Homo sapiens: one gene and its partners. The protein of the gene in region 1 purifies or fractionates together with the protein of each later gene. This does not show direct contact. Each region holds a gene or a part of one and is shown in the gene's direction. Other genes may lie near its edges. The genes, in order: CYP3A43, GCA, MNDA, LCP1 and BPIFB1.

Region 1 (5,967 bases):
TATGACAGGGGAAAGTTGGGGCTCCAAAAATGAAACCCCAAAATATGGCACTTAAGCATGTTGAGGACTTTGAACCAAAGGAAATTGAAAGGTCTCAGAAAGTCTTCAGAACCAAGCTAACTCTTATGTTCTCCTGTCTCCCAACCCTGCTATTTCTCCCAAAATATAGGAAGGGGCTTTCTCTGAAGTTCTCATACCTAAAGGAAGATCCTCCTAAAAAAAAGCAATGGTCTTGAGCCCCCTCCCTATAATCTCATGAAAAAGAATCTTAGCAGGGCCAGGCATGGTGGCTCATACCTGTAATTCCAGCACTTTGGAAAGCCGAGGTGGGTGGATCACGTGAGGTCAGAAGTTCAAGACCAGCCTGGTCAACATGATGAAACCCTGTCTCTACTAAATATACAAAAATTAGCTGGGTGTGGTGGCAGGTGCCTGCAATCCCAGCTACTCGGGAGGCTGAGGCAGGAGAATCGCCTGAACCCTGGAGGCAGAGGTTGCAGTGAGCCAAGATTGCGCCATTGCACTCTAGCCTGAACAACAAGAGCAAAACTTAGTCTAAAAGAAAAAAAAAAGAAAAAAATAATATTAGCTCACAGAAAGGGAGACTAAGGTTGATAATACTTGTTCTTTGGAGCACTGATGCCTGACAGACATTATAATAAGATGACTTTTGTTTATCATGCTTTTTCTTCCCTCACTCTCTCATGTCTTGTGTCACCCACTCCCCATCAGAAGATACTACATTTTTATAGCTCAGAATGCTATTTAAGCTTCAATCATCAGGCCATTCTTTGAGTATCATATCTTTCAAGGCTCCCATGCATATTCATGAGATAAATTTATAAGGATTATCTCCTATTAATTGATCTACTGTTAGTTCATTTCTCAGACTCAAATATCAAACCTCCATAGAGGAATGTTCTCTTGACCCTACAGATGTTACACAGATCCGTTGAAGAAGTAAATAAACATTATCCACCTCCTCTTCATTCAACTTCCAATTTCTGTTACTAAGAGTGTTTACTGACATCATTCAATCCTGGGGATGCTTTCTGATTGACTATGAGTTTTGATCTACCTAGACTAACAACCAGAATTTAGCATGGGCAGATAATGGATTATAAACAACTGGAAACCCAAGAGGTTATTTTCGATGTGTGAGTAGGAAAAGATCCCCAAAGAGGGAACCAAGCTAACAGCTGGGCCTGGCCAGGGTGCCACTGTGGGGTCCTTCAAACACATTCTCTTCATGCAATTTTTCAGCTTTATCACATTTTATAAGATTTATTTATTTGTACTGAATATTTAGGATCTAAGAAAAGCTAACCTATAAAGAAGAGAAATCAAGTTTCTAATTCAACTGTCTGGAATATTTTATGGTTACTTATGCTATGTAGCACAGTGAAACTTTTCTATCAACAGAAATGTTCCTGAATTTTGGAAGACCTCTCTTTCAGCTGAAAGCACATAAGGGGCATTTAAAACTATTTATGCATACCATAATTTTCAGCCACACTTTCCTAACTTACCCTTATAGGGCCTACTTTGTGGCACCAGCAGTTGCATGGTTACATCGGCGGGATGCAGCCTCTCTTTTTCCTCCAGTCTTCCATCCCTCAGTAACACCAGAGTGGGAAGTTCTGCAAGGATCCAGAACCTGCAATTGATGGAGTTCACACATAACCCATCAAAGATGAGTTGCAGGCAGGCCTGCCATAAGGAGCACCAGACTTAATGGGTTTTCCTGCAGGATAGTTGATGTACAGAAGCAGTAAACTGACTCTGTGTGACTGATCATTTTGAGAAAAAAAAAAAGTGAGCATGACTGGCATTGTGCTTATCAAGTAAGGATCACCAGTTGGAGGGCCAGATTGCACAAGAGGAGGAATGGCCTTGAAATTTATTCTTTAGTCATTGGTTCCTCTGCATAGTGCCATTCAGAGAACATATAGGTCAATCACATTTACTGTAGTTTATATCAATCAAATCATCTGACCACAGAGATTTGGGTGTAGCTGGAAGGTGCTCACATTTCTATGAAGCCAGTGGAAGCCTTGAATATGGTTGTCATTCCATAGAAATAAGAACACTATGATTCTTCCAGAGCTCCTCTGTGCAGGAATGTTTAAGGATGGCCAGATCCTAAAACAAGGTCAGTGTTTAGAGGGAAGGAAAAGCATAAACACCTCTGAGAAAACAGGAAAGAAGGTGTCAGCAAAGGGCCTCAGTAACCCTCTGTAATTCAATGGATGTAGTGATACACAAACTCATTATTAGTTCAAAAGATAAAAAAAAAAAACCTCACCTAGTGATATGGTTTGGCTCTGTGTCCCCAGCCAAATCTCATCTTGAATTGTTATCCCTATGTGTCAAGGAAGGGACCTGGTGGGAGGAATTGGATCATAGGGGTGTTTTCACCCATGCTGTTCTCATGATAGTGAATGAATTCTCACAAGATCTGATGGTTTTAAAAGTGTGGCACCTCGACCAAACACCGCATGTTCTCACTCATAGGTGGGAATTGAACAATGAGAACACATGGACACAGGAAGGGGAACATCACACACCGGGGACTGTTGTGGGGTGGGGGGAGGGGGGAGGGATAGCATTAGGAGATATACCTAATGCTAAATGATGAGTTAATGGGTGCAGCACACCAACATGGCACATATATACATATGTAACAAACCTGCACGTTGTGCACATGTACCCTAAAACTTAAAGTATAATAATAATAGAAAAAAAAACAAAACAACAAAACAAGAAAAAAAAAGTGTGACACCTCTTCTCTCTCTCTCTGTCTTTCTCTCTCTCCTGCCTCCATGTAATACATGCTTTGCTTCCCCTTCACCTTCCACCATGATTTTAAGTTTCCTGAGGCCTCCCCAGCCATGGAGAACTGTGAGTCAATTAAGCCTCTTTTCTTTATAAATTACCCAGTCTCAGGTAGTTCTTTATAGCAGTGTGAAAATGGACTAATACACCTAGAAAGAGAATTTCCAAATCAGGAAAGAATCAATTAACTAAATAGACATACGTGAATGAAATGCCCTGGAAGAATTCCAGTCTGAACCTCTTAAGGGCACTCAAATTTGGGAACATTTATTAAGCATTCACTCTAGCACTGGGATCATGCAGACTTCAGCTGCTTTTAGTTAATCATTGTGACTTTTTGGGGTCTCACAGAGGAGGCAGCAAAAAAGATGAGGATTGAAATGTAGTGGGATTTTAAGGAATCAGAGAGACTGATGGGGTTCAGGAGGATATTTATTAATTATTTAGGTGCACCAGCCCAGTCGGATTAACATCCAGAGGACTGAGCTCTGAACAAAGAGTTTAGTTACCTTTTAAGCATTTCGTGGGAGGGGGGAGATCTGTGGAGAGGGAAGCATACTAGAGAAGTAAGAAACAAACACAGTTATTCAATTGAGAAATGCATTACATCATTTCTTACATTTCAAGGAAAAACACGTTTTGTGACTTGAGTTTATCTGTCTAGTGACCTTGCAGCTGCACAGCTAGGGAAACAGGGTCTTTGCAATGCCTGGGAAGGGAGGAGAGATAAGGCTCACTAGCCTCAGAAAAACAGGCAGTTAGTTTTTAAAAGACTCCAGCTCTTTCTCTTTTTCAGGGGAAGTTGGGTTTTTTTCATATACAACTCAGTTTCTGCTTACGCACTCTTTAATTTCTTTTAATTCCTGTTCCATTGTCCCCTTTGGTGCTTTTTACAACAGAAGTGTTAATAGAAAGCACCACTATTTGCCACCTCCTCGCGGAGCTGAGCTTTTTCTTCTACCGGCAGCAGCTGATATCTGGTTAATGCCACAACTGTGCGGTAGCGTGTCAGGCTACTATTGCCTCTATAGTTGACTGAATACTCCTAATAAACAGGGGTAAAAGGCAAGGGAGGATGAGGCAAATGCCAAAAATAAGCAAGAACTCACTAATGAGGGTTTTGAATTCTCCAAAGGCTGACAACCATCCTCCAAATAAGGAATCCAGGGACCACCTGGACCAAGTCTGAACTAGAACATGTGCCATCTTGCACATTCTAGCTGTGATTTTCATGACAGCTAGGCCATTATCATCGATTTCTAAGCAACAATTGGTTAAATTAAATTTTTCACATACTCTTCCTTCTGAGGCTAAGAGGAAATCTAAAGCCAGCCTATTTTGATATATAGCATTTCTCATTTGTGTTGCTTGTATTGCCAATAAATCTAGTGCCCTTGATGTTTTATTGGTTATAATTTCAAGGACTGCCCGCAACCTTATGATGCAGTTGAGCATATAGATGGGGGTACGGTACCCCCATGACCTTTCTTGCACCTAGGTAGCTGGCCTATAGTATTTAATGATTCTTTCAGGAGGCCATTTGTTATCTTTCCAGTCTCCTATGTCCACATCTTTTTTGATATTTGTGTTTATTTTTGTGATTATGCCTCTTCTAGTTCTTTTATTTTCATCATAAACTGGATATCCTAAGAGTTCCCCTGGCTTTAGAGGAATTAGAAAGAAGGATGGCTTGATTGTTTCTAACACACATTCCCCTGTCCATTTAGTCAGCAGCTGATATGCCTGTGCTCCACAGGTCCAATATAGGCCAGAGGGTGCTTTCTAAGCATTTGGAGCCTCTAGCCGATGCCAAGTGCGGCTTAGAATAGACAGTGGAGGGAAAGGGTTTTGATCTTGTAAGTAGGAGTTGTTCTGGGCATTTCTTCAATAGAGTTTTGTTTTTAGTCTCATCATAATACTGTTGCCCTAGGCAGATTGTTTCTCCTACTGCCCCTGTGAAAGCCTTTCCTCATTGGGCAATACAGTACTTTCCAATTATGGAGGTTTTTAACAACCAAACACTGGTTGAGGCTGTTGGTTCACTGGTAGGGTTAAGCGAAGTGAAGTTATTTTGTGGCATTAATTCCTTTGCCTCCCATGGCCACTGGTCCCCCATATTAGTTCCTCCACATACATAGCATGAGGAAATTCCTAAGCTGCCAGCTATGTTTTCAGCTAGTTGAGCAAATAAGTTTTTGGTTGATGGGGGAAGCTCGGGCACCGGCTGATCAAAATGCTTATAGAATGACTTATGAACCCAGAATTGTGGGGTTGGACACATCTGAGTTCTTCTAGTCTTTTTGACAATCAGTAGTGGAATTCTAAGGCCTGCTCCTTGCCTATCAACTCTTAATAGTGCTGTCTGTCCTGTAGACCAAAAAGGTAGCTCTGGCTTTAAGATAGTAAAATTTAAAGGATTGCATGTCTTTGTCTTACGATCTGGTTTGGTTGACATACTACTTAGCAGAACAGTCTTCCCTGAATATAGGTGTTGGTGTTGTGTCAGTGTAGACCACTTAATGTTACAGTCTGGGCATCCGATTTGTCATTCTCTGTACAGATGTTTAGGACTGCTGCTGATAAGCCTCTCGTGTCAAACCATTGCAGACTGCTTCTGGTTTTTTAGGATTATGAACATATGCGGTATGGTAGGCATCAAAATACAAGGAAATAGGCCTGTTATAGAGGGGAAGGGCTTCTTTGGTTTGAGCTATAAGCTCTCCTTCTTTTTCTCCCTCTGATTTAACATGTACCTCAAGCCAGAATTCATAGGGTGAGAGCTTAGGGTCATAACATACATATAGCTGATTATTTCCTGGGTCACAGACTGAATAGGTGGTCTGGTTGTATGTGCAGGTTTCTAACTTGGTTCCTGCACATTCATAGTAGTTATGGTACAGTAGAGTTTTGACTATGGTATTCCTTACCCAGGTAGTGTGTACACAGTGTGGGCATCCTTCTAGAGATTTCTCCCCTTTTAGTGTAGGCAGAAATGGTAACAACATTAGCGTATGTAATAGAAACATGCTTACACTACACGTGGGAATGGCAAACCTTCCTCTGGGCATAGACATTTGCAGCATTTGCAGTAATAACGTAACAACAGAACAATCAGTACTGACAGAATTATAA
Region 2 (5,967 bases), on another chromosome or scaffold:
GATAAACTCAGGTATCAGAATTTATTTTTGTTAATAAAACTATCAGAGAGATCACACAGGAAAAATGGGATTTAATGCATTCAAAGAGCTATGGGCAGCTCTTAATGCCTGGAAGGAAAACTTCATGACTGTTGATCAAGATGGAAGTGGCACAGTAGAACATCATGAGTTGCGTCAAGCCATTGGTCTTATGGGTAAGAACATTAACATTCTTTAGAATCTATAAAGCTAATCTTTGTTCTTTGATTAGATGAACTTAATTGCTTCAATTTACTAACTAATAAAGGGATGTATTTTTTTGCCAGCAAGTTCCTTTGTTTGTTTTCAAGGTTGTAGGTAAATTCTGACCAAAGACCTCAACAAAACCATTTTAATTATGATTTTTTTCAAAAGATGATCTTCCATACATGCATACATTCTGAATTTCTTCTGTTGTGTTTAAATTTATTTCTTTGTTAGTACTTACCAGTTAGATTGTATTCTTTTATAACTTGGCAGGATATCTAATTGGGAGCCAAAGCTTGCCTCAGTCAGTCAAAAGTCTGTACAAAATAGGTTTTCAGTGGTAGAAACCATGTTTTTGTCTTTTTTTTCTTAGATAGTGCAGAACACATAGCAGGTGCCAAAATACATCAGGATGGAAAGGTTGCATTTTAGAGTAATTTAGAAGTATATAACTTTATTCTTATACCTCTGATAAGCTGATGTTCCTAGTGTACTTTTAAAATGGATAACATACAATGGTGTTTAATTTGCTTAAACTTAATGCAGTTTTAAGTAGCTTTATGAATTGTTCTTATGCTTGTGATTTACACTCTTCTAAACAAAATCTATTTGTATGAAAATTAATTTTTTGGAAGTTAAAATCTGAACCCAATGGAAGTGGGCTTATCTCAAATTGCAATTTAAATAAGTCAAATTAGTGATTTGTTTGGTTTTGTTTTATAAATAGACATTTTAATTTAGTAGTAGGGACAGTCCAGCCCATATAAACATATGTAGTTCAATTATAGATCCTTAATACCTAATGGATTAAACCTGGACCTTAATTCAGCCTAATGTTGGGAAATTAATGTAATCTTTGGCAGAAAAGAAAACCTCCAGAGTTCCCGTTAGGCAGTGGAATGTAAAAAGGGTATTCTGGATTATCCAAATTTAAGATCTTCATGTATATTTTAAAATATTCAAATTATTTTTCTGAGAATACTATGGGAAAATCTAGGAATTTTATCAGTACCACATTTAGCTCATAACTCTCTAATATGAAGTTCAAAATATATTTGCATATAATTACATTAGTTTGCATGTTTTACTGCTTCTTTCAATTTATACCTTTCCCACATTACATTCTATTATAGCTGCATGTATAATTTTCTCCTGTTACATTTATTTTGGTTGTTTTCACCTTTGAATTGATTAGTGTCATTTGTTCAAGTCTACAAATCCAGTAATGTATGGGCAATAATACTGGGCTACCATTCTTCTTAGTAAAATGTATACATCTCATTAAATGCATAGGACCATCTATAAGGGTACAGCAAGTAGAATATATTAATTTATGTTTTTATTCAGTTGTATTCGTTTTAAATTTTAGATTTTATGTATTTTTTAAAATAGGAGTAATCAAACAATAATACATGTATAGAATTTAAAATTAATTTAAACATACTGGGAGTGAATGATCAAAAACTTCTTTCTCATTGATATAAGTAAAAATCAAAGATTTTGGACATCACAGGACTACTGAACAAAGAACCAAGGAAATCAGTGAAATAGCGAGAAAGCTGTTATTATTATTACAGTGTATGAAGAAACACTAAGAATTCCAGGACAAAAAAGAATGTTTTTCTGTTTTTTTCCCCTGTAGAGTAATCATGTTGATCCTCAAATTTCTCTTAGTTATAAAAGATACTTGCAAGTAATATGTTCAGTGGGAAATATCATTTGAATAACAAAGATCATTAGTAATCTTTGCATTTATATTCTTTAAGAACTATACAAAGTTACATACTTGAAATATTGAAGCATTAAAACCCATGAAATTAGACATTATTTCAAAATAACAATATATGATAAATTCATAAGAAGAGAATTATTTTCTTTTCCTTAGCTTTGACTTTATTACAAAGTTAGAATTGTGATATTTATATACCGATTAACAGGATTAACAGTGAAGCCTTTGTCTGATGAATTTCAATATTCATGTGTTTTGTTTCTAATTATATTTTTGTGGAATGAATTTTGAAAGTTATTTTATGACTTAATGAGAAAGCAATCTTGCAGTGTTCTTATGTTATTTACATTTAGAAGTTTTAATTTATCTCTTTTTTAGGTTATAGGTTGAGTCCTCAAACATTAACTACTATTGTTAAACGTTATAGCAAGAATGGCAGAATTTTCTTTGATGATTATGTTGCTTGCTGTGTGAAGCTTCGAGCATTGACAGGTATTGACTATTTAAAACTAAGTGCACAGTGTTATGTAGCTATTTTTCTTGAATAATGTGTCTCATTTCCTCCAGCAAGTTTATAATAATATGTGTTTTCTCCCTTTATTCACTGTTAAATCTAATTAGTTTAAAGGCTTCAAATATTAAGGAATATAAATGATAAAAACGTTATGTTATTTTTGGAAGTTTTTCTCATATCTCTGTTGCCAGGGCTATTCAATCACTTAATATTTAATTGAATATGAAATTATTCTTTTTGTGTACCTGGGTGCACTAAATATTTGAAACTATGTATTTTAAATTACAATAAAAAAGTAATTTCTTTGTTTAAAGATTTCTTTAGGAAAAGAGACCACTTGCAACAAGGGTCTGCGAATTTCATATATGACGATGTGAGTATCCTGCTTTTGATATTTATACTGCATTCTAGATAGTTCTCAGTTAGTAAAAAAATTTAAGTGATCCCAAGTACCAGTACTGGAAATAATATATTTGGTATGCCACATACTTTTCCATATTTTTCAGTGTAACACAAATATAAGATTAATATTGGTATAGGTGCCAAACAATTTGACTTCATGTTAAATTGTAAATATGCTTTTCAATTTTTATGACAGGTTTTTTGAATTAAAAAAAAAATGATCTTTCAAATCACTTTTAAGGGCCAAAACCACCATTATTTTTAAAAAGGGTAGTTTACTGTAGTGATATTTTTTCTCAGGGAGGGAAAAATTTTAATCCGTGACGGATTATGAAGCTGTTCATTTCTCATTTCAAATGGTTACTATTAACCTGATATTCAGGGTTTTTTAAAATTCAAGGTATAAGACAGTTATATTTACCTGTGCTTTAATGTTTCAGGGTTTTTGTTTTGTTTTTCTTATATTTACTGATGGAAGTTATGGGGTCAACATTACTGATATTTATTGGCTTGAATTATAAGCCTTGGAAACAAACTTTTCTCTCTTAAGAAAATGCTCTTATGGAATATAATTAGTCAAAAATAATTAAAAACCATTTTATTCTTAATAGATAATAATTTCACTTATGTATTAGTTTTTGCAGGGCACTATGGCAATTTGAATGCTTAGAATTTTAAACCTGAAGAGACACTGTGAATTCTTTTGTTTGGAAGAAGTGAACTGGACTACTTTAAAACTTTTAAGGGTTTTCTATGTTCTTCCTACCTGTTAAACCTCTTCCCTTTCTGTGTGTTTTTATTTTAGCAGATAGTTCAAAGCAATAAAAGATTTCTTTTTTAATTTGAGGTATTACTGCTTTTGGAAAAGTTATTTTATAAATATGTGCATATTGTCATAAAATATTGTATGATTAATTGATTTAAATAATGCTTAGCCTTAATTTTAGATAATGTAAATTTAGAGGAATGTACTTTACAAGATAGATTGTATAAGAAGCCAAATAATGAAAGCCTAGAAAAAACTAATTTATACTTATCTGAAGGTTACAAATTAGACTTTTAAATTTTCTTTGTAGTTGGTGGTGTTTGAGGGTTGGCTAGAAATGAAAGCCTGGATTTTGTGCCATGTTTGTAATATAGTTTGTTCCTTGATCAAATAATCAGAGAAAAGAAACTTAAAGATCTTTGTCTGTGAAGAAGAAAATTATCTCCCTAGTTCAATCTGTAGTGAAATAAGACTACAGAAGGCATTGTTTTTTCCTTTTTTATTTTTTGTATTATATATTTTTCTTAAATATGTTTTATTGTCTTCTCTAAGCAAAAAGTTCTTAATAAACATAGTATTTCTCTCTGCGTCCTATTTCATTAGTGAAGACATAGTTCACCTAAAATGGCATCCTGCTCTGAATCTAGACTTTTTAGAAATGGCATATGTTTTTGATGATATGTCAACATTCAAAATTGTCCTAATTAAATTGTTGTTTAAATGTAATGTCAACTCTTTATAAACTTAAAAATAAACAAGTAATTAACCACTCTAATTGTTCAGAAATTTTACATTTGACTTATTTGACAACATTAACATTAGTGGTGGCTTTGCCATTAAAAACCCAGTAAGTATTTTGAGTGCATCTATGTGATGTGGTGTTTTGAGCATAGTAGGCACCACAGCAACTTTTCTGCGTGGTACTAAAACTGCCGAAAATGCGACGTAGAATCACCAGATCTTTAGTGTTTAATATCCCTGGTATAAGATGTTATAATTAATGTAATTTCTTTCTTGGCAAACACCTCATGTCTGTCTTAGTGAAGATTTAATAAACCACTTATTTTTCTTATGCTTTAAATGTGTATTTTCTAACCTAACAGTGAGTGACATAATTTTATGACTGCTGACCAAATTAATTTATAGATTTTATAAAATCCCATGTTTCTTAATGGATGGAGGATAGATGGCAATATCTTGAACAAAATCTTTTATAAACTTACAGAATTTTAAATCAGCCTTCACTTAAAAAAATCCTGGAAAGGAAGTAACGCATAGTCACTTGACACTGATAATTTTATATAATTTGCTGTCAAATTCACTTGGTCAGTTTTATAAAAATGTGTGAATAGGTAATACACATAATTTTGTTCTCTGGCTTTTTTATGAACATATATTTGATAATGTGAGAGGACATTAACTGAGCTGGGAAATTAAAGAAACAGAATTCTAATTAGAAGTGTTGTAGGAAAAAGCAAATGTGAAAACACTAAGTGTCGTTCACATCGAATGGTGATAATGTCGCTCAGCAACCTGTAATCTTAACATCCAGGTTATACAGATGGTCGTTACTGAACTATTCTGCGGTCGATTATGATTATCTCTCTTACTTGGAGGCTCACAGTTGAGGTAAAACTTTTAAAATGACAAATGGTATTATTCATGTAAGCTTCTGCCAGGTGACACTCTATATTAGAACTCTTTAACACAATTTTCATTTAAAAATGTTCTTATGACTTTTGGTCATAGAAGGTCTATGAAGGAGCTTCCATGGCCAAACATATTTAGAAACTCTCACTTTCTAAAGCTTGACAAGGTATATTAGCATCTGAAACCCCAAGGTTAATAAAATCAGTCATGTTTAATTTTATTTGACCCAGTTTTTTCCAAACTTTTTGACCACAGAACCCCTTTCTCTAGCAAAACCTAACATTCTATGCCGATCCAACTTAATTGCCAGGCAACTCTTCTGCACTTTACATTAAACAGACAAACTTATGTTAACAAAAACATTAGGCCTAGAGAATATTTTACCAGAATTTTTATACTGAAATACAGTTCACTTTTTCGATGCTTTAAAAATAACTGATATTTTTATGATGAACATGACTGTAATATGAATATAGTATAGTAGTTTGCACTGGTTAACTTACACCCCAGTTCTTTTACGATGATGTAAATTATTGAATAATGTACACTCTTAATGTATAAGTGCTTTTATTTATACAGTAAACATGTTTCCATGTCATTTTGAGAATTTTTTTAATAAACATTCAAATAGCTTGCTGTAAAGTTTTGTATCATACAAAATCTGTTACATATATATATATT
Region 3 (5,967 bases), on another chromosome or scaffold:
CCTAGAAGTTTTCCACTATTTTGAATGTGGCTTAATCTTGGTTTGGAATTTCCTTTGTTGCAACCAATTCTTAACAGCTGAAAACATTAGTTTGGTTCATAAATTGTTCTTTATTTGGTGTTTCCATGGTATAATGAAAGTCTGGAACGTCCTTGTCTGCAATCTTGCTAATGTCACTCTCAGTGAGAAGAGAACAATTTTTTAAACCATAACATTCAAATAACATTTTGACCAGATACAAAATTTTAGTTTGAAAAATATTTTTGCTTGAAAACTGATTCACAGCACTTCACCTGAAACCCCTGGGACAACTCTGATTTTTAATTCATTTTTTTAGGGGGGGATTTTAGAAAGACTACTTAATGCATACATTGTATGTAGGCACTGCAAGTGTCCCAGTAGAGGTAATATCAACATCCTAATATCAAATGCATTAAGAGTTCTTCAACAAATCATGCCACTATTCACATTAAAGTGAGATGAATAAGGAAGATTAAAAATAGCCACTGTATTAGTTCCTTCTCACGCTGCTATGAAGAAATACCTGAGACTGGGTAATTTATAAAGAAAAGAGATTTGATTTACTCACAGTTCCGCACGGCTGGGGAGTCCTAAGGAAACTTACAATCATGATGGAAGGCACCTCTTCACAGGGTGGCAGGAGAGAGAATGAGTGCTAGCAGGGGAAATGCCTGATGTTTATAAAACCATAGATCTCATGAGAACTTGCTCACTATCACAAGATGATATTTCAAGATGAGATTTGGGTTGGGACATAGCCAAACCATATCAGCCACGTATTACTTCACATTATATCTCTAATTTGCAAGATGATTTTGCTACCACACTTCCCTGCTAACTCTCATCCCTTCCCAAGCCCCCAAACCGCACAAATCTTTTCATCCTTCAGTATCTTCTTAGGTTTTAAAATTGCAGACATATAATTATGGATCAGTACTATGTAAAAATTACTTTCTTAACCTGCTGCAGACTGTTCAATCAGATTATTTAATCTTTGTAGGTGTTCTACTCAGTATTTCTGGAAGATTTTATCATTTTGCTTTTAATATTCTTTGGCTTTACTATATGTGCCCATGTGTGAAATTTCTCTTTATCTGATAGGTTTAAACACAGGAACACTCATGTTCTCCCAAAAGAGAACAATTTACAGCCCTAAGAATTTGGACACTCTAATTATATAAAAGTTGCACAAACACATGGTCACCAACCTAAAGGAATACCTATAAATTTAAACAGAAAATTGGAATATACGTTAGGAACTGAATGCCCTTAGGTAGTACACAAGGGGTTAAAGAGGCACACATAAGTGAGAGTGGGACCACAACAGCTCGCAGAAGATAAAGCCTCAATTAAGCATTAAAAACTCTAAGGAAGTATTCAGAGGAAGAAAACTGGGAATGCTTTCCCAGATAGCAGGAAGGGAATTAGCAGTAAGAAGACCTGAAAAAGAAAGACATATTGTGTATTTCTAGAGCATAAGGTATAAGAAATTCAAAAGTAACAGACACACACAAAAAGAAAGATACAGTTTATGCAAGGCCTTTCAAGTCATGCTGAGTAGAAATCTATACTAATAAAAATCAAAACTCATTGAAGGATTTCAGGAAAAATAGAGTCATGTCTTTATCCATAAAGAAACCTACTTGGTTGTCTGACAGAAACCTTTTAGTAAAAGTAAGACTAGTTGGAGGTAAATAATTGACTGTAAAAAACAAATGTGCAAAAAATAAATGCTGCAATTCCACACTAGAGAGCAGATAGGAGGATGGCAAAATGACAATTTTATAGATGCATAGGACACAGAGAACAAGTTCTAAGCCCCAGGGAGAAAAAGTGCTAACGAGAGCTGATTAGGGAGAGCCAAGAAGGACTAGAGTCCATTCCACAACTCAGAACTGTAGTGCTGTGGCAGAAGGTTATTCACATAAGGTGAGTGGCTGCAGCCCATTTATACTTAGGCCACTTTGGTCATAGTGGATGACCAGGAAGAATCAGGGAAGAATCAGGGAAGAATCAGGAACCAAGAGGTAGGCATTGAGGGATAGGCTCAGGCCCCAATAAAATATCAGAAGAGGAACCAGGGACTTTGACACCACAAAACCCATACTATAAATACTGCAACAATTACCTGTTTCCAAACATCATTTCACCACATACACCTCTGTCCCAACTTATCAACATTAAAAGGGAAGAACTTCACTGAACCTCCTAATAAAGCAAGTCTTGATCCATTGTTCACAGTGACATATCTGGTAACTTAGTCCCTTTTTCTTATACGCATCCAAGGACAACATTTTGGCCTGGGACACTCACTCACAAAAGCATATCTCATTTTTTAAAATTGTCTGCATAAATGTGTAATGTTGTGTGTCATTTTTACTTTATAGGCCAAGCTATAACATCAGAAATGGTGAATGAATACAAGAAAATTCTTTTGCTGAAAGGATTTGAGCTCATGGATGATTATCATTTTACATCAATTAAGTCCTTACTGGCCTATGATTTAGGACTAACTACAAAAATGCAAGAGGAATACAACAGAATTAAGATTACAGATTTGATGGAAAAAAAGTTCCAAGGCGTTGCCTGTCTAGACAAACTAATAGAACTTGCCAAAGATATGCCATCACTTAAAAACCTTGTTAACAATCTTCGAAAAGAGAAGTCAAAAGGTAATAGAGAAAACCTTGCACATAGCTACTCTGCCTTGAGTCTCCCCAGTCTTCAGTAGAACCCCACCTTGGTCATAGCTGGTACATCCCTTTTCCAATTTATAACTCAGCAGTCATGGGGATGTTGGCACCTCAGAGACTGACCAGTTGGCAATTTAGAACATTCTGTTTCATATGAAAGAGATTGATATATTTAGAAGAATGTATTTGAGGTAAGGATAAAAAACCAAAGACAGGGATTTATGAGACGGTGAGTGTTTCAGTAAATCAAAAATGTCAGAAAATGAAAAAAAAAGCTACTTTAAAAAATGTGTTTTATTTGAAATATTTATATTTAACCAATTTATGCAGCAATAGTTCTATTAAGAGACGTGTAGAATTTTTCCACTTAATAAATCACTGTTCTTTTTTTAATTCAAAAGCCAATATTAGCACTTTGCCACATTACAATTCAGATCATATTTCCTTTCAGGTCATATTTCTGTCATTTGAACAGATATTGCACAGAACATGACCAGCCTGTCAGCATCATGAAAGCCTTAGATATTTAAAAGAAATGGTAGGAGAACAAGACTGAGAAAGGGTTGATTGAGGCACATGGAGTTCACAGGAAAGGAAGCATGTTCTCACTGCAAAGGGGAGGAGTGAGTAAAGCACTGAGGAGAATGAGACAGTGCCTATGCCTACCATGCTGCTGTTGGCCTCCTAGGAGCCAGGCTGGGTTAATGCAGTAGAGGTAACAGGCAAATCCGAACTCTCATGCAGGAGCTGACAGCAGGTAATATTGAAACTGCCTCAGCTGTCTTAGATAAGCTATTCCACTCTAGGCCTATTGTGCCCTTTTTCTTTTCTTTTGTCAGTTGCTAAGAAAATTAAAACACAAGAAAAAGCTCCAGTGAAAAAAATAAACCAGGAAGAAGTGGGTCTTGCGGCACCTGCACCCACCGCAAGAAACAAACTGACATCGGAAGCAAGAGGGAGGATTCCTGTAGCTCAGGTAAGCTTGAGAAAGAGGAGCAGGACTGAAGCCTCACAGAAGATACTCTGCTATGGCACGTGGCTCTTTACTAATATCTCAACACAGCTTAGATTTACCAAATTAGTAATTATGGATCTTCTTTGTGATGAGTAAAGAGTTAGGTATCGTAAAAATGTAATAAAAAATTTCTGTGACATAAATATATTATCATCTCCATTATAAAAATGGGGTAATAATCATATTGGATATACATCTTGCCCATCCTTACACAAATCTAGATTTTCTCATTCCAAGTCCAGTGCTCTTCTCATCACACCACAGTGGTGATAACAGTAATGCATCTGTTGAAATCATCCATCTCCTTTTTAGTGCAACAATCTATGCCCAATATTATCTATTGTCCATATCTTCAAGTGACAGATTGTAATTCCCTGGGGTTTCCAAGGACATCCCATCCAACATAAATAGAACTTACTATGTTGTAATGAAAAAATGAAAACTTGCTCTGCTTCTTTTGATACTAAACTCCATTAACAGGAAAATTAAACTACTTTCAGAAAAGAAAAACTCCAAACAAAGAAAAGACTGAAGCCAAAAGGAATAAGGTGTCCCAAGAGCAGAGTAAGCCCCCAGGTCCCTCAGGAGCCAGCACATCTGCAGCTGTGGATCATCCCCCACTACCCCAGACCTCATCATCAACTCCATCCAACACTTCGTTTACTCCGGTACACTCTTCCTGGTCCTCTTCTCCATTTTTTTTTAACCCAGTCACAGTGCATTCCACTGTTACTATTGTTACTCTCATGCATAACTCTTCATATTACTGATTTGCTGTGGGAAAACTGTTTTCCATATTATGATAACTTGTTTACATTGGTGAGAAGCCACATGCAAGTAAAGTCCAATTACCTACAGGTAATCACTGTGTGTAAAACACCAGGACAGACCACTAAGCATTTCTGGTCTGTGCAGGTAAGTAGCCTGGCTCCTAGTACCAGTACATACAAGCCCATGGCTCATCTTTGCTCCCCACACTTCCTATTACAGATCTGCCAACGTTCTCTTCAGAAAAGTATTCTGCTGCAACTCAAATAGGCCAGGACACTGTGGAGAGAGGACATACGAGATAAACAAACTTGTCCTTTTTCCATTGTTGTTAGCATTTTAGCCACTGTGAAATGCTGTGTATACACAGTCGAGGACATAGCTCTAACCAGAAATCCTCTACCTGAGACTACTTACATGCTAGCCAGGCCAAGTCTTTCCACTTGTAAAAGCACTGTTTCTTGGGAAGAAACAAACGAGTTTGGCCCTCAAAATGGCAGAGTACACTAGTGATCATTAGAATTTCTAATGAATGTTTGATCATTAGAACATCTAATGATGTTTGAGGCTTCTGGTGGGCATGGTTCTTCATTTTTAATGCTGTCCAAGTTGTTTTCACTTTGTTGATTGTCTTTGATAATTTCAGTAGGTAGAGGAGATATTTGGATTTGTTATTATATTCTAATCTTTCTTTAAAGTTTCTTCACAACAATGTTTTCATCATCTGCTACTCTAGATTGTTCATGCAGAAGATCATGCTTTGCTTCAGGAAGATTATTCTGAGTCAATGAGGGTGATTTAATTTCCAAGCCTGTTGTCTGTTACCTTAGGCTTTCAGTAGCTAAACTTTACCAGCTCATGTGCCTTTCCTTTCTGTTCAGTAATCCCTGTCTAGCCTAGCCCCCAGCTCCAAATATCTGTGAAAGTTGTTGGGTCGAAAGCTCTGCAGAGTCACTCGTGCAGAGTGACTTTGTATTCCTGCTCAAAGTTTTTGTTGTTGTTTGTTTGTTTGTTTGTTTGTTTGTTTGTTTTTGAGACGGAGTCTCGCTCTATCGCCCAGGCTGGAGTGCAGTGGTGCGATCTGGTCTCACTGCAAGCTCCGCCTCCCAGGTTCATGCCATTCTGCTGCCTCAGCCTCCCGAGTAGCTGGGACTACAGACGCCCGCTACAACGCCCGGCTAGTTTTTTTTGTATTTTTAGTAGAGATGGGGGTTTCACCATGTTAGCCAGGATGGTCTCGATCTTCTGACCTCGTGATCCACCCGCCTCGGCTTCCCAAAGTGCTAGGATTACAGGCGTGAGCCACCGCGCCCGGCCTCCTGCTCAAAGTTTTAAGTTTATTTTCTTGTGTCTGCCCAACACAGAATCAGGAAACCCAGGCCCAACGGCAGGTGGATGCAAGAAGAAATGTTCCCCAAAACGACCCAGTGACAGTGGTGGTACTGAAAGCAACAGCGCCATTTAAATACG
Region 4 (5,967 bases), on another chromosome or scaffold:
TATTGTGCTGTATACTGGTAATTTGCCAAGAAAGTAGATTTCAGGCACTCTTCCTACAAAAAAGAAAGAAAGAAAGAGATAGAGAGAGAAATGAAGAAAGAAAGAAAGAAAAAGAAAGGTAACGATATGAGATGTGAGTATGTTAATTTGCTTGACCAACAGTAACCACCTTACTGTGTATGTGTCTACCAAGATAAGTATACCAAAACATCACGTTACACACCTTAAATCTATGCAGGCTAGAATAAACATTTTTAAAGACCGTAGAAAATTCCATTTAGGGTTTCAGAGTTCTCAACTAAATATGTAGCTGTCAATCTTATTGCGTCTTCTCTCACCATCTTATCTGTATGTAAACAGTGACAGCCCCCTGGCTTAGACAGAGGTAGCCCACCTTGATAAGTATCATGCAAAACACGATGTTATCTTTTAGTTATCAGGTACAAATCCTACCAATATGAAATCTGTAGTCAAGTTCTAATCTTTAGTTATACATACTTTTTTATTTATATGTCCAAATCACAATAACCAATGAAAAATCCTGAAATATTATTTAAAAACCAATGTATTAAACATAATATAAAGAAGGCGGGGGAGAGGAAATAGGGATCTTAGAACCTGTGAGAAAGAATATTGATCTTCAAATAATGACCTCAGCTAAATTTAAACCTTCTAGCTGAGCAAAAAAATACTTACTCATCTGGGAAAACGTAGAGGAGAGTTGATTACATTGTTGAGTTGCTATAATTAGGCAGGTAAGCACTTGAAATATAAAACACCTATGGGAATAGACAAGAGAACATTGTTATTATTACAAAATTGATCTCTTAAAAGCAAAAATGTTGTCATATTGTGAAATGTGGTTTGACAGACCCAGCAAAACATCCGAGCCAGTAGCCTTGGTTATTTTTATGGCTCTGCCCAAATGTTCTTAAACATAGCGTTGAGATTCACTGTGCTTTGTTTTCTCCATCTGGAAAATGGAGATAATAAATAAGCTCACAATGGCTTACGCCTCTTTTTAGGGAATAATAATAAAATATTTAATCCATGGGAAAGGCTACAAGAACCTTTACCCCAAAGAGGTAACGTTGTTATCTTTAGCTTTTTAGCAGAGCTTAATGAAAGTTATAACCAACCCCCCTCCCCCAACATCGCTGCATTTATTTTTCTGTGGTTTTTGTGCTTCTTCAGCTCTGATTGCTCTTTTGAGAGAAGGTGAGAGCCTGGAGGATTTGATGAAACTCTCCCCTGAAGAGCTCTTGCTGAGGTGGGCTAATTACCACCTGGAAAATGCAGGCTGCAACAAAATTGGCAACTTCAGTACTGACATCAAGGTAGGAGGAGCGTTGTTTGAACATGACTCTCTGCAGGAGTGAAGGGGAATTTGGGCAATAATAAAGAAAAGATAAAGATTTGGGGCTTCCTCTCTTCAGAAGTTCCAGGGTAGTCTGGTGCTGTTTTGGAGGTGCTCACTGTCCTTGAGAGCCCATCTGCTGCTCTAGTCCTGGGCCATACACAGACCTGCCCAGAGTCCTAGTGCAGTGTCTCGATTGGAGTTTCCATATCAGGAAGTAGAGGGACAAAGGTGAGCTAGAGGAAGAGCAAGAGAACAGTCTGCTGTCCAAGTAAAGGGAATATATGTAGGTCTGTAATGTCTCTGGTTTCATAAATGGGAGCAGCAGATGGGAATTCCCTGTAAAAAATTAAATGAAGATGACTCTTCTAGTTATACTAATAACAGCAAACATGGTGTCTGCAACATGCCAGGCACTGTTCTAACTGATTTATATGTGTATTCTCTTATTGAATCCTTACAACAACCCCATGAGGTAAGGGTTATTATCCTCTCATTTTACAGATAAAGAGACAAAGAGGTCCATAGGGGAAAGGCTGAGGCAGGAATACACTGTGGTTTTCAAGTATATGAAAAGTTCCCTGTCAAGGTGAAAGAAAACAGCTATTGGCAATGATGACAGATGGATGAAGATAGAAAGTGGTTAAGGAGCAGAAAGGAATGGAAAGCGGTCCCTAGAAGGAAAGAGTAGGAGATGCTGGGATGCAACACCAGGAAAATACTTCAGTCTCCACTTTCTCAAACATTAAATAACTTTTCCCCAAAGAGAAAGAGTCAGAGGAAAGTTCACATGACTCAACAGGAGTACACCTAGGCTTGTAATTCTTTGAGTAACAGTTTCCCACTGCTATATGACGTGCATTCAGTGGCATTTAGAACTCAGCGTGTGTCAGGCACTGTGCCAGTCAGAGTCAAGCTTCTAGATGGAAAGCCCCCATTTTTTAGGATCTAAGCTAAATCCATCTTTCTAACTATGCATCTTTCATGGGCTATTAACATTCTTCTAGCACCACCAACCGACCTGGGTTTTAACAGGAGCTGGCTGTCATGCTCTCCCTTTGTGCTCAACAGTTAAGCTCTGCAATTGCAAAACTTTTCAGACAAAATTAGGCTGTCAGATCTCAGCTGTAAATTTACCTAATTTCCTGTCATTAAATGGCTGTGTTCTCTAGAACCACCATTTTGTGCTTTGGGAAGTGTCTGTATGAGATAGGAGCTGGCCAGATGAGCACTTACTTATACAGTGTTGTGCCTGTTCTCTGGCAGCCGCTGCATGGCAACTGACTCCGTGCTGTCATGTGTATGTCTGAGTAGCCAGCCAGCAACCTTGGGAGATGTCTTTAAATCGTGTAAATTGGCAAAGGCGAGGAGAACACCCAGGCTAGAGTGAGTGAGAAGGTTCATGAGAGTCAGGTGAAATGAGGTTACTCTTAGCCAAACTAAAAAGATGTAACCCAGGGCAGGCAGATGGTATTGGTGCCTGACACCTGCATGTGACTTTCACTGACTTCAAAATAGCTACAGTGAAAAGTCAGAGAAGGGAGGGTAGATAGAAGGGAGATGAAGATCATTTTCCCCAGGTGCAACATCAATGATTCACACTCTCTGGTTCTCCTCTTTCTAATGCCAAAAGTGGTGAGCATACCTCTCCTCTGCCCAGGCCTTACCTACCCTAACCAGTTGTAGAAACAAAATAATAGCTGATTTTTCGATCTTTATGAGAAATTGAGATGCTATTAAATGATTTAAATAAACTACCTGAAAATCTGTATGCTTTCATTGACTAAGAATAAATTTATATTTTAAGACTATAATTCTGAGAATTCTTTTTGTCAATAAGCATATTTTCAGAATCTAAGAAAACTTGAGAATTCAATACCTGTATCTAATCTGCTATAACTAAATTGAACCATTTTTCTAGCTTCTAGATAAATATGAAATGCACTTTTCTTAATATTTCTCCTTTTACGTAAAGATTGCTTGTTAATGCTTCAATCTTCTGTCTTTGACATCTTTTTCTCTTGCTGATTGTCCATTTAAATGTATTTTAAACTCGCTTTAAACTTGTGCTTCCTTTTTCTGTCACTTTTTTTTAATTAAACCTTAGCTGACTGACTTCTACAGCAATATAAAGGTATATATATATTTTCCTGTATACAATTTAATTCATGTAAATAAGTTGTTTTTCTCCCCTAAAGACAACAGAATAATATCCACTTCTTTAGGGTGCCTTTTGTGTATATCTTGTCTATTTTATTGTTACGCTCCTTTTAAAAAGAAAAGCAAATGTGATATGTAAAGAGACAAATAGAACATTCAAATTAGTGAATGTTTCTAGCTTTGTTAAGTTACATTCTGGAATGATAGCTGAATATGAAATAAAATGTTTGCTTTTGGGAAATCATTGTTATGCTAAGTATGTAATTAGCTGTGCTATTTTGAAATTGGAATTTCTTAATTTCTCACAGGACTCAAAAGCTTATTACCACCTGCTTGAGCAGGTGGCTCCAAAAGGAGATGAAGAAGGTGTTCCTGCTGTTGTTATTGACATGTCAGGACTGCGGGTAAGGCCAGGTCCCAGTTGTGTTTGGAGAATATGATGCTATTTTCATGTTGGCAGTTCCATTACCTTGTGTGGCCCTGATTCTGGAGTTCCATGACTGGGCATTTCTGCCTAAAGCCCTGTTAAAACGGTAAAACTGTGAGCAGTTTGGGATAATAATTGATGAAAACTGAATCTGGAAATACAACATTAAAGAAAGAAACCAATAGTAATTAAACACCATCCAGCATGCTAGGCAATTCTATATATGTTCATCATTTAGTAGACTCTATAACCCCACATGGGTCTGAATGTTATAATAAAACTTCTGTTTTGCCGCCACTTTAATACTGATCTTGAGAAGTCTCTTTGCCCGTTTCTGTGCCTCATTTAATATCACTGGAGTTAAATCCAATGAGTTCATGTTGAAGTCAACTGATTCCTAATGAGAAGTAGAGTAAAAGTAAATGACAAGTAAAGCTCATGAAATGCATAATGTGTAGCGTTATCTAGTAAAGGGTCATATTAAGAAATCATCCTAATTTAAAGTTTTGTTTTCTGAAAATTGGTGGTTTCATGTACTTTAAGGACAGTGGGCCATATTTCAGCAAAATTTTAGGGTTAAGAGTCACTTACAAATGGCTAGAGATTCTCTAGAATTATTTGAGCACATTGAGTGGTTCAAAATCTGAAGTCTGCAAAAATAAAATTGATATTATATATTTATCAATAATAATACATAGGTTAACTGATAAAATTTATTTTATTTGGGTTGCAAGTATACCAACTCAATGTGGAGACAGTGGTTATGCTAATCATATGTTCTTACTGGCAAGTGTAAATATCTTTTGTGAACTGGTTATGGGAATATAAATTAATAAATAAAATTTTTGATAGACAATCTCATGTCATCTGTGCACACAAATAATAAAAAGGAATCTTAATGGTTGGAAATAATTAAGATAAACTCAAATGATCAGTTTTCAGAATCTACTGCATCTCTTTTGAAACAGAGCAACCAACCACTCATCTGAAATAGTTTGATAAAGGAGATGAGAGATCCTTGTTACTTAACCTCTGAGATTCCTTTTACTTGTGACTTTCTGATTTTGGTGCAGGTGCATATAGGCAATAATGTGCTGTTATTAAGTGTCTGCCTGAGATAAACACTAATGATTTCAGTGAGATTCCCATTTCTTTTCACATTATGCAATCTGCTTTGTGCATGGAGAGCCTTGACCCAGCCCTGAGACATCCTTTTGCATTGCAGGAGAAGGATGACATCCAGAGGGCAGAATGCATGCTGCAGCAGGCGGAGAGGCTGGGCTGCCGGCAGTTTGTCACAGCCACAGATGTTGTCCGAGGGAACCCCAAGTTGAACTTGGCTTTTATTGCCAACCTCTTTAACAGATACCCTGCCCTGCACAAACCAGAGAACCAGGACATTGACTGGGGGGCTCTTGAAGGTAACTGTAAACGATTTGCCTAAGATGGGGAAAGGCACTCACAATTCTAATTCAATGGCAATTCAAACTCACTTCCTAAGCAAATATAAACTATTTACATGTGCAAACAGGCCATTAATTCTCTGGTATGCAACAAAGAGAATAAATAGATTCATCAAGTCAATTTCAGCCAAGCAGGAATAATCAAATACCATTCTATCACGTCCATTAACAAAGCGTTCATCCATTATCAGAATTAAATGTTTTAGGAAAGATAATGCATTTAGTTATTAGATGAAATAAATCCTGAGTTTCAAAAAGATAATTTACGTACTTAATGGACTGTGTTGATTCCTAGAGACAAGAAATTGCCACCATCCATTTCCAAAAAATGATATTTAAGGTATGCTGGGATATGCTTACTGAGTTTTTGGTTTTCTTTTGTTTCTTACGGGAGCCACAGAAAAGTATTTTGAGGCAGAATCCCTAACAGTTGTATTTTTCAGGTTAATGCTCTAAGATTCAACAAAAAGCATATAGCTTTAATTACGTTCTACCAGGTAGAGGTGCTGGAGATGTTTACTTGACTTTTTTAAAAAAATCATGAACTAGTCCCAATATTG
Region 5 (5,967 bases), on another chromosome or scaffold:
TCAGTGCCATGCGGGAAAAGCCAGCCGGAGGCATCCCTGTGCTGGGCAGCCTGGTGAACACCGTCCTGAAGCACATCATCTGGTGAGTGGAGCAGGACCACACCAGGAGCTAGCCCCTTCCCACACCTTTGCCCGGGACACGCTCTGCATGCTCAGTCAACCAGTCTGCAAGCATCGACTTGTGTCAGATCACAAAGAGTGGATCAAACAAAGCCCCTCCGTCAAGAAGCTCCCAGAATAGTTAACAAGAACCATAAGACAGTGACACAGGAACCCTAATACAACAACCCCAGAGCAAGGCCAGGGACGGTGGCTCAAGCCTGTAATCCCAGCACTTTGGGAGGCCAAGGTGGGTGGATCACCTGAGGTTAGGAGTTCGAGACCAGCCTGGCCAACATGGCAAAACCCCATCTCTACTAAAAATATAAAAATTAGCCAGGCATGGTGGCAGAAGCCTGTAATCCCAGCTACTCAGGAGGCTGAGGCAGGAGAATCGCTTGAACCTGGGAAGTGGAAGTTGCAGTGAGCTGAGATGGTGCCATTGCACTCCAGCCTGGGTGACAAGAGTGAGATTCTGTCTCAAAAAAAAAAAAACAAAAAAAAAAAAACAACCCAGAGCAAGGTTGTCTGGGGTGGCACAGGGAAGGGATGAGGTGATGCTTCTCACTGGAGGTGACAGTGGAGCCGATGACTCAATGCTCACCAGGAGACAAGAAGCAAATGGCATCCAGGTAGAAGAATCAGGCTGGGCAAAGGCATGGAGAAGTGACAGTCGGTCAGAATGGCTAGAGCTCAAACCTCAAGGCAAGGAGTAAGGGATCAGCAGGGTCAGGTCACAGAGGGTCTTATGAGTCAGCTCAAGGAGCTGGGAGTCACCACCTAGAAGAGAAGGCACCATAATAGCATTGTGAGCAGGAGTGGAGGGGAGGGATGGAGGCAAGACCATCTGGAGAGGAGTCGGTGGGCAGGGCCAGGGTCCCGCTGCTGCCTAGGCACCCCAGGGAGATGGAAAAGATAGAGAGGGAGTGGATTTGGGAATAATGAGCCGGAGGCATGATTCTGATCTCTCCTAAACCCCATCCAGGCTGAAGGTCATCACAGCTAACATCCTCCAGCTGCAGGTGAAGCCCTCGGCCAATGACCAGGAGCTGCTAGTCAAGATCCCCCTGGACATGGTGGCTGGATTCAACACGTGAGTGACCCCTCCATCAAGTACAGTAGGCTTGACAGGCTCATCTGCTCGTTCCCCCTCCCCCGCCCCCACCATGCAGGTGTCTGGAAAAGAGAGTTCCGAGCAGAGAGAAGAGCAAGTGCAGAGGCCCTGTGGCAGCAGTGTACTTGCCTTGCTCAAAGAATGGCAAAGACAGGGGAAAGAGAGAGGGGGCATGGTAGGAGATGAGGCCAGCAGGCAGCCGAGGCCAGATCATACAAGGCCTCTTGGGAGAAGATAAGGACTTGGCTTTTGCTGAGTAGGACGGGAGCCAGGGAGGATTCTGAGCAGAGGAGGGATATGCTGTGCTTTCACATTTTTAAAGACTCCTGGCTGCTGTGGGGAAAAAAGACTTTCTGGGGGTAAGAGTGGAGACAGGAAGGCTATCCCAAAGCTACTGCAACAATTCAGGAGGAGATAATGATGGCTTAGACCAGGGTTTGGGGCAGGGAGGTGCTGAGAAGTTGATTGGATTCTGGATATGTTTTGGAGGTAGGTGGGGACACCAGGATATCCCGGGGAACTGAATATGCATGTGTATTCAGGGGGAAAGAGAGAGAAGTCAACGATGACTCCAAGAGTTCTGCCTGCACCACTGGCAGGATGGAGTGGTCAGTAACCAAGACAGGCAAGGCCATGAGAGGAGCAGGTCTGGGGAAGAGCCAGTCCAGTGTTGCATGCGCTAAACTTGAGAAGCCCGTGAGACATCGGAGTAGGGGGCTGGGGGTAAGTTTGGAAGCTGTCAGCAGACGAAAGACGTTTCAACCAAAGAGGAGTCTGAAAACTGAGCCTGGGACATGCTGGGGTGAAGTTGGGTGAAGATGAGGAGAAACCAGCAAAGGAGACTGAGGAAGGAGGTGAGGGCTGGAAGACAGAGACGGACGGCAGGGTTGCTCCAGCCCGAGCTTGCCTGGTGCTCACATGGTCAGGTGCCTCCACCCGCTAGGCCCCTGGTCAAGACCATCGTGGAGTTCCACATGACGACTGAGGCCCAAGCCACCATCCGCATGGACACCAGTGCAAGTGGCCCCACCCGCCTGGTCCTCAGTGACTGTGCCACCAGCCATGGGAGCCTGCGCATCCAACTGCTGCATAAGTGAGTGTCGCTGGCCACCAGCCGGGCTCCCATCCTGCCTGGAAGGAACGCCAGGCAGTGGACTTCCCCCATTTTACAAATGGAGAACGCTGAGGCCTAGAGAAAGAAAGGGACTTATCCCCTCCTGATTCCTGATCTGGGGCTCCTTCCAGGGAATCTGTGATGCCAAGGGAAGTTCAGGACATCAAGGTCAGAAGCAACCATGGTGGGTTTCAGGCATGACACCGGGAGGTGGGGCAAATCTTTGAAGGGGGAGGCCTAGAAACTCCTCCAAACACCAGGGCAGGTGTAGGTGGAGCCAGGGGCAAAAACATAGGCTTTGGGTCAGGCCAACACATTCTCTTCATTTGCTCTCCGGGTGATGATGGCCAAGTGGCCACCCTGTGTCTCACTTTCCTCACCCGTAAAGTGCAGGTAATGACACCTTCCAGGCAGTGGTGAGAAAACTGATCAGACAACAGCCATCAAGCACTCAGAACAGTGCACGCGCATGGTGGTGCCAAAAAACATGGCGCCCCCCCTTCCCTTCTTAGCAGGAGGACAGGGAGAAATGCCAGCTCCCATCATCCCAATGCCCAGCATAAAGTTCCAATGACAACACCCAGCCGCTGCTTTCTGATAACTCTTTGCCACTGCCTACACCTGGCTCAGGGGCTACTCCCAGCCCCGTCTCTAACACGTCCTGTGACCTTGGGCAGGTTCCTTCCTCCCTTAGACTCAGCCTCCCCCTCTGTAAAATAGAGGAAGGGGTGATCATCTCTGACCCTTCCTAATGTCTCTCGTGCTCTCTTCCCTGAAAGGCTCTCCTTCCTGGTGAACGCCTTAGCTAAGCAGGTCATGAACCTCCTAGTGCCATCCCTGCCCAATCTAGTGAAAAACCAGGTGAGTGGAATCAGGGCCTCTCTGGCCTGTGGGCATTGCGCCCCCTGTGGGGCTTGGGTGGAACTGCAAGTTGGTGCTAAGTGACTGGAGTCTCCTTGGGTGGGTTTTGCTGAAAGAATTATCTGGGGCTGGATAGCAAAGAGTCATGGAGTGGGGTGGGCCATTGACCCAGGCAGACAGGCAAGGTCATGGGACTGCTAAAAGTCAGCCAGGAGCCCGTGAACAGTGACGTGCTGATAAATTTTTAGCAATTGTCTCTGGAGGGGTTGTTGAAGGGAGGCAAACCTGATTTGTAGCTTTTGCGGATTTCCCTGGTGGAAATACTCCCTTCAGGGCCAATTTTAGGCGACCAGTGTGATGTCACTGAACAGAGTTGGGAAAAGATATACAATAGCACACGATTGTATATTTCCACTAAACAGATACATAAACATGATCTCAGGAGTAATAGATAGTAGTAAAATACAGCAAACTAATTAGGAAGCAATGCGTTTTAAATTTTTATTAAATTTGTTTTAATATAATTTATTTAATTGTAAGTTTATATGTCTAATTTGTAACAATGTCTGGGCTTAGCACCCAGCTCAGAAATTTGTGGAAATTTAACAATTGGTTCTCAAAAGCTAGTACAAGCTGGCTCTAGCACGGCACTGTCACACATCAATCTGGCTGTGGTATTCAGGGCTGCACCACCCACCAGGTCCTGTTGGATTTTTTTTCTGCGTCAGTAAACACAGGTGACTCTCATTTTAGTTGCCCCTATTTGTCACAGGTATACTAAAACTTTGTAAATTGAATTCATCCACATTAACCAGTGATTTCCACTGTAAATTCCAAGATGTGTTCGTAACAATGGGCCACCCGATCTAGGGTCAAAACACCTTGTCAAATAGCTAATATTTCTTGGAATAAGACTTTTTTCTTTGATTTTTGTTTTTGTTTGTTTGTTTTGAGACAGAGTCTTGCTCTGTCGCCTAGGCGGGAGTGCAGTGGCGCAATCTCAGCTCACTGCAACCTCCGCCTCCCGGGTTCAAGCAATTCTCATGCCTCAGCCTCCCAAGTGGCTGGGATGACAGATGAGCACCACCAGGCATGGCTAGTTTTTATATTTTTAGTAGAGACAAGGTTTTCGCCATGTTGGCCAGGCTGGTCTCAAACCCCTGACCTCAGGTGATCCGCCTGCCTCAGCCTCCCAAAGTGCTGGGATTATAGGCATGAGCCACTGTGCCTGGCGACTTTTTTCTTTGAAAAGATGATGTAATAAATGAAAAAATTTGGGGAAAAAAAATCCATAATCCTTTTACTTTCACCCAGGAGCGCTTTGATCTTTTGCAGATTGCCTTCCCACCTCCATCCACATGCACTAGTATTTTTAAGAGGCTGCTCTTGGTGTCAGCCTTTAAATCAGATCTATGTTTCAAAGTCATTATACAATACTTGTAATTATTAAATAGGTACATTGGGTTTAATAATTTACGAAAACATTCCAGCAAATCCTTTTTTAAATAATGTGATTTTATTAAGAGTACTTTAAAATGACAGTAGCAATATTTAAAACAGTATTTTAGGCCAGGGCCAGTGGCTCACACCTGTAATCTCAGCACTTTGGCAGGTCGAGGCGGGAGGATCACTTGAGCCCAGGATTTGCGACTTGCCTGGAAAACACAGAGAAACCCATCTCTACAGAAAAATAAAAAATTAGAATAGCTGGGCATGATGGTGTGCCCCTATGGTCCCAGCTACTCAGGTGGCTGAGGCAGAAGGATCGCTTGAGTCTAGGATGTTGAGGCTGCAGTGAGTCACAGTTGTGCCACTGCACTCCAGCCTAGGCATGACGGCAAGACTCTGTCTCAAAAACTAAATAAATAAATAACACTGCTTTATATAAACAATGTGATTCTTATTAAGAGTACTTTAAAACAATGGAGATTTTTATTTTTCTCCAAGTTGGCTTCCATGTCCTTACCTTCAAGAAAAATACAGTAAAACATTTAATCTCCATTTTGTGAAATATACATCAACTGTACAATATACTATTACGTTTGTTTCTCTAATAAGCTGGAGTTATGATTTTCAACTTCTGCTTCTGCACTAGTAAAGCTTAAGAGTAGCATGTATAGTCAAAGGAAGATCCATTATTTTAATAGTCGAAATATCTACATATTAAAGAGGCCAGGGAAAAATAAGTGAATAATCAAAAACTAAATAAAGCTCAAATAAGATCTTAAAAGGTTAATTTCAGAAGCAATACTGATTCAGCCCAATTCAAGCTACCTTTCTCCAGTACTTTTTTGGAAGAGAATGGGGAGAGACAGAGAGAGATGAGAAGGGAGGGAACCAATATAATGAATTAATGAATTGTGTGATATAATGAATATAATGAACAATGAATATAATGAATTGTGTGATCTCAAAGTTCAAGACAATGGCTTCTTATAGGTAGAATGTTGAGACTCCGACCTTTTAGCAAAGGTACGTATCCAGGGAGTTTTTTAAAGGGAATCCAAAAGTGAAAAACTTCATAACATTGGAATTTTCTTATGTAAGAAAGAAAATTTTGTTTCTTTGAATAATTTTATTTATCTGTTTCAAGGTGGGAATTTCATAAAGTAGGACCCAGCTGTAGATTTTCTTCCCAGCCTCCAGCAAAATCATATTTTATCTGGCATCACACTTTAATAGTTAAAAATATATTTTCCAGTAGAAAAGATGACAAAAACTTGGAATTATACAATGCTCCTTGCATAGTATCTGTCTTTAATGGTGAAAAGCTAAGTAG

Evidence for each region.
Region 2: the proteins of CYP3A43 (region 1) and GCA purify together in Homo sapiens (affinity purification with mass spectrometry; one large-scale study listed by BioGRID and IntAct). This does not show direct contact.
Region 3: the proteins of CYP3A43 (region 1) and MNDA purify together in Homo sapiens (affinity purification with mass spectrometry; one large-scale study listed by BioGRID and IntAct). This does not show direct contact.
Region 4: the proteins of CYP3A43 (region 1) and LCP1 purify together in Homo sapiens (affinity purification with mass spectrometry; one large-scale study listed by BioGRID and IntAct). This does not show direct contact.
Region 5: the proteins of CYP3A43 (region 1) and BPIFB1 purify together in Homo sapiens (affinity purification with mass spectrometry; one large-scale study listed by BioGRID and IntAct). This does not show direct contact.

What each region holds. Positions count from the first base shown.
Region 1 is NC_000007.14:99,829,961-99,835,927, forward strand, and holds part of CYP3A43 (cytochrome P450 3A43), read left to right. Parts: intron 1-5,967. UniProt on the Homo sapiens protein: Exhibits low testosterone 6-beta-hydroxylase activity.
Region 2 is NC_000002.12:162,356,712-162,362,678, forward strand, and holds part of GCA (grancalcin), read left to right. Parts: intron 1-46; coding exon 47-194; intron 195-2,332; coding exon 2,333-2,446; intron 2,447-2,782; coding exon 2,783-2,841; intron 2,842-3,505; coding exon 3,506-3,532; 3' UTR 3,533-5,967. UniProt on the Homo sapiens protein: Calcium-binding protein that may play a role in the adhesion of neutrophils to fibronectin. May play a role in the formation of focal adhesions.
Region 3 is NC_000001.11:158,839,726-158,845,692, forward strand, and holds part of MNDA (myeloid cell nuclear differentiation antigen), read left to right. Parts: intron 1-589; exon of another isoform or gene 590-671; intron 672-2,408; 5' UTR 2,409-2,428; coding exon 2,429-2,693; intron 2,694-3,553; coding exon 3,554-3,690; intron 3,691-4,229; coding exon 4,230-4,397; intron 4,398-5,861; coding exon 5,862-5,967. UniProt on the Homo sapiens protein: May act as a transcriptional activator/repressor in the myeloid lineage. Plays a role in the granulocyte/monocyte cell-specific response to interferon. Stimulates the DNA binding of the transcriptional repressor protein YY1.
Region 4 is NC_000013.11:46,146,306-46,152,272, reverse strand, and holds part of LCP1 (plastin-2), read left to right. Parts: intron 1-1,194; coding exon 1,195-1,337; intron 1,338-3,464; coding exon of another isoform or gene 3,465-3,656; exon of another isoform or gene 3,657-3,758; intron 3,759-3,825; coding exon 3,826-3,921; intron 3,922-5,169; coding exon 5,170-5,365; intron 5,366-5,967.
Region 5 is NC_000020.11:33,288,801-33,294,767, forward strand, and holds part of BPIFB1 (BPI fold-containing family B member 1 precursor), read left to right. Parts: coding exon 1-82; intron 83-1,084; coding exon 1,085-1,192; intron 1,193-2,156; coding exon 2,157-2,306; intron 2,307-3,106; coding exon 3,107-3,188; intron 3,189-5,967. UniProt on the Homo sapiens protein: May play a role in innate immunity in mouth, nose and lungs. Binds bacterial lipopolysaccharide (LPS) and modulates the cellular responses to LPS.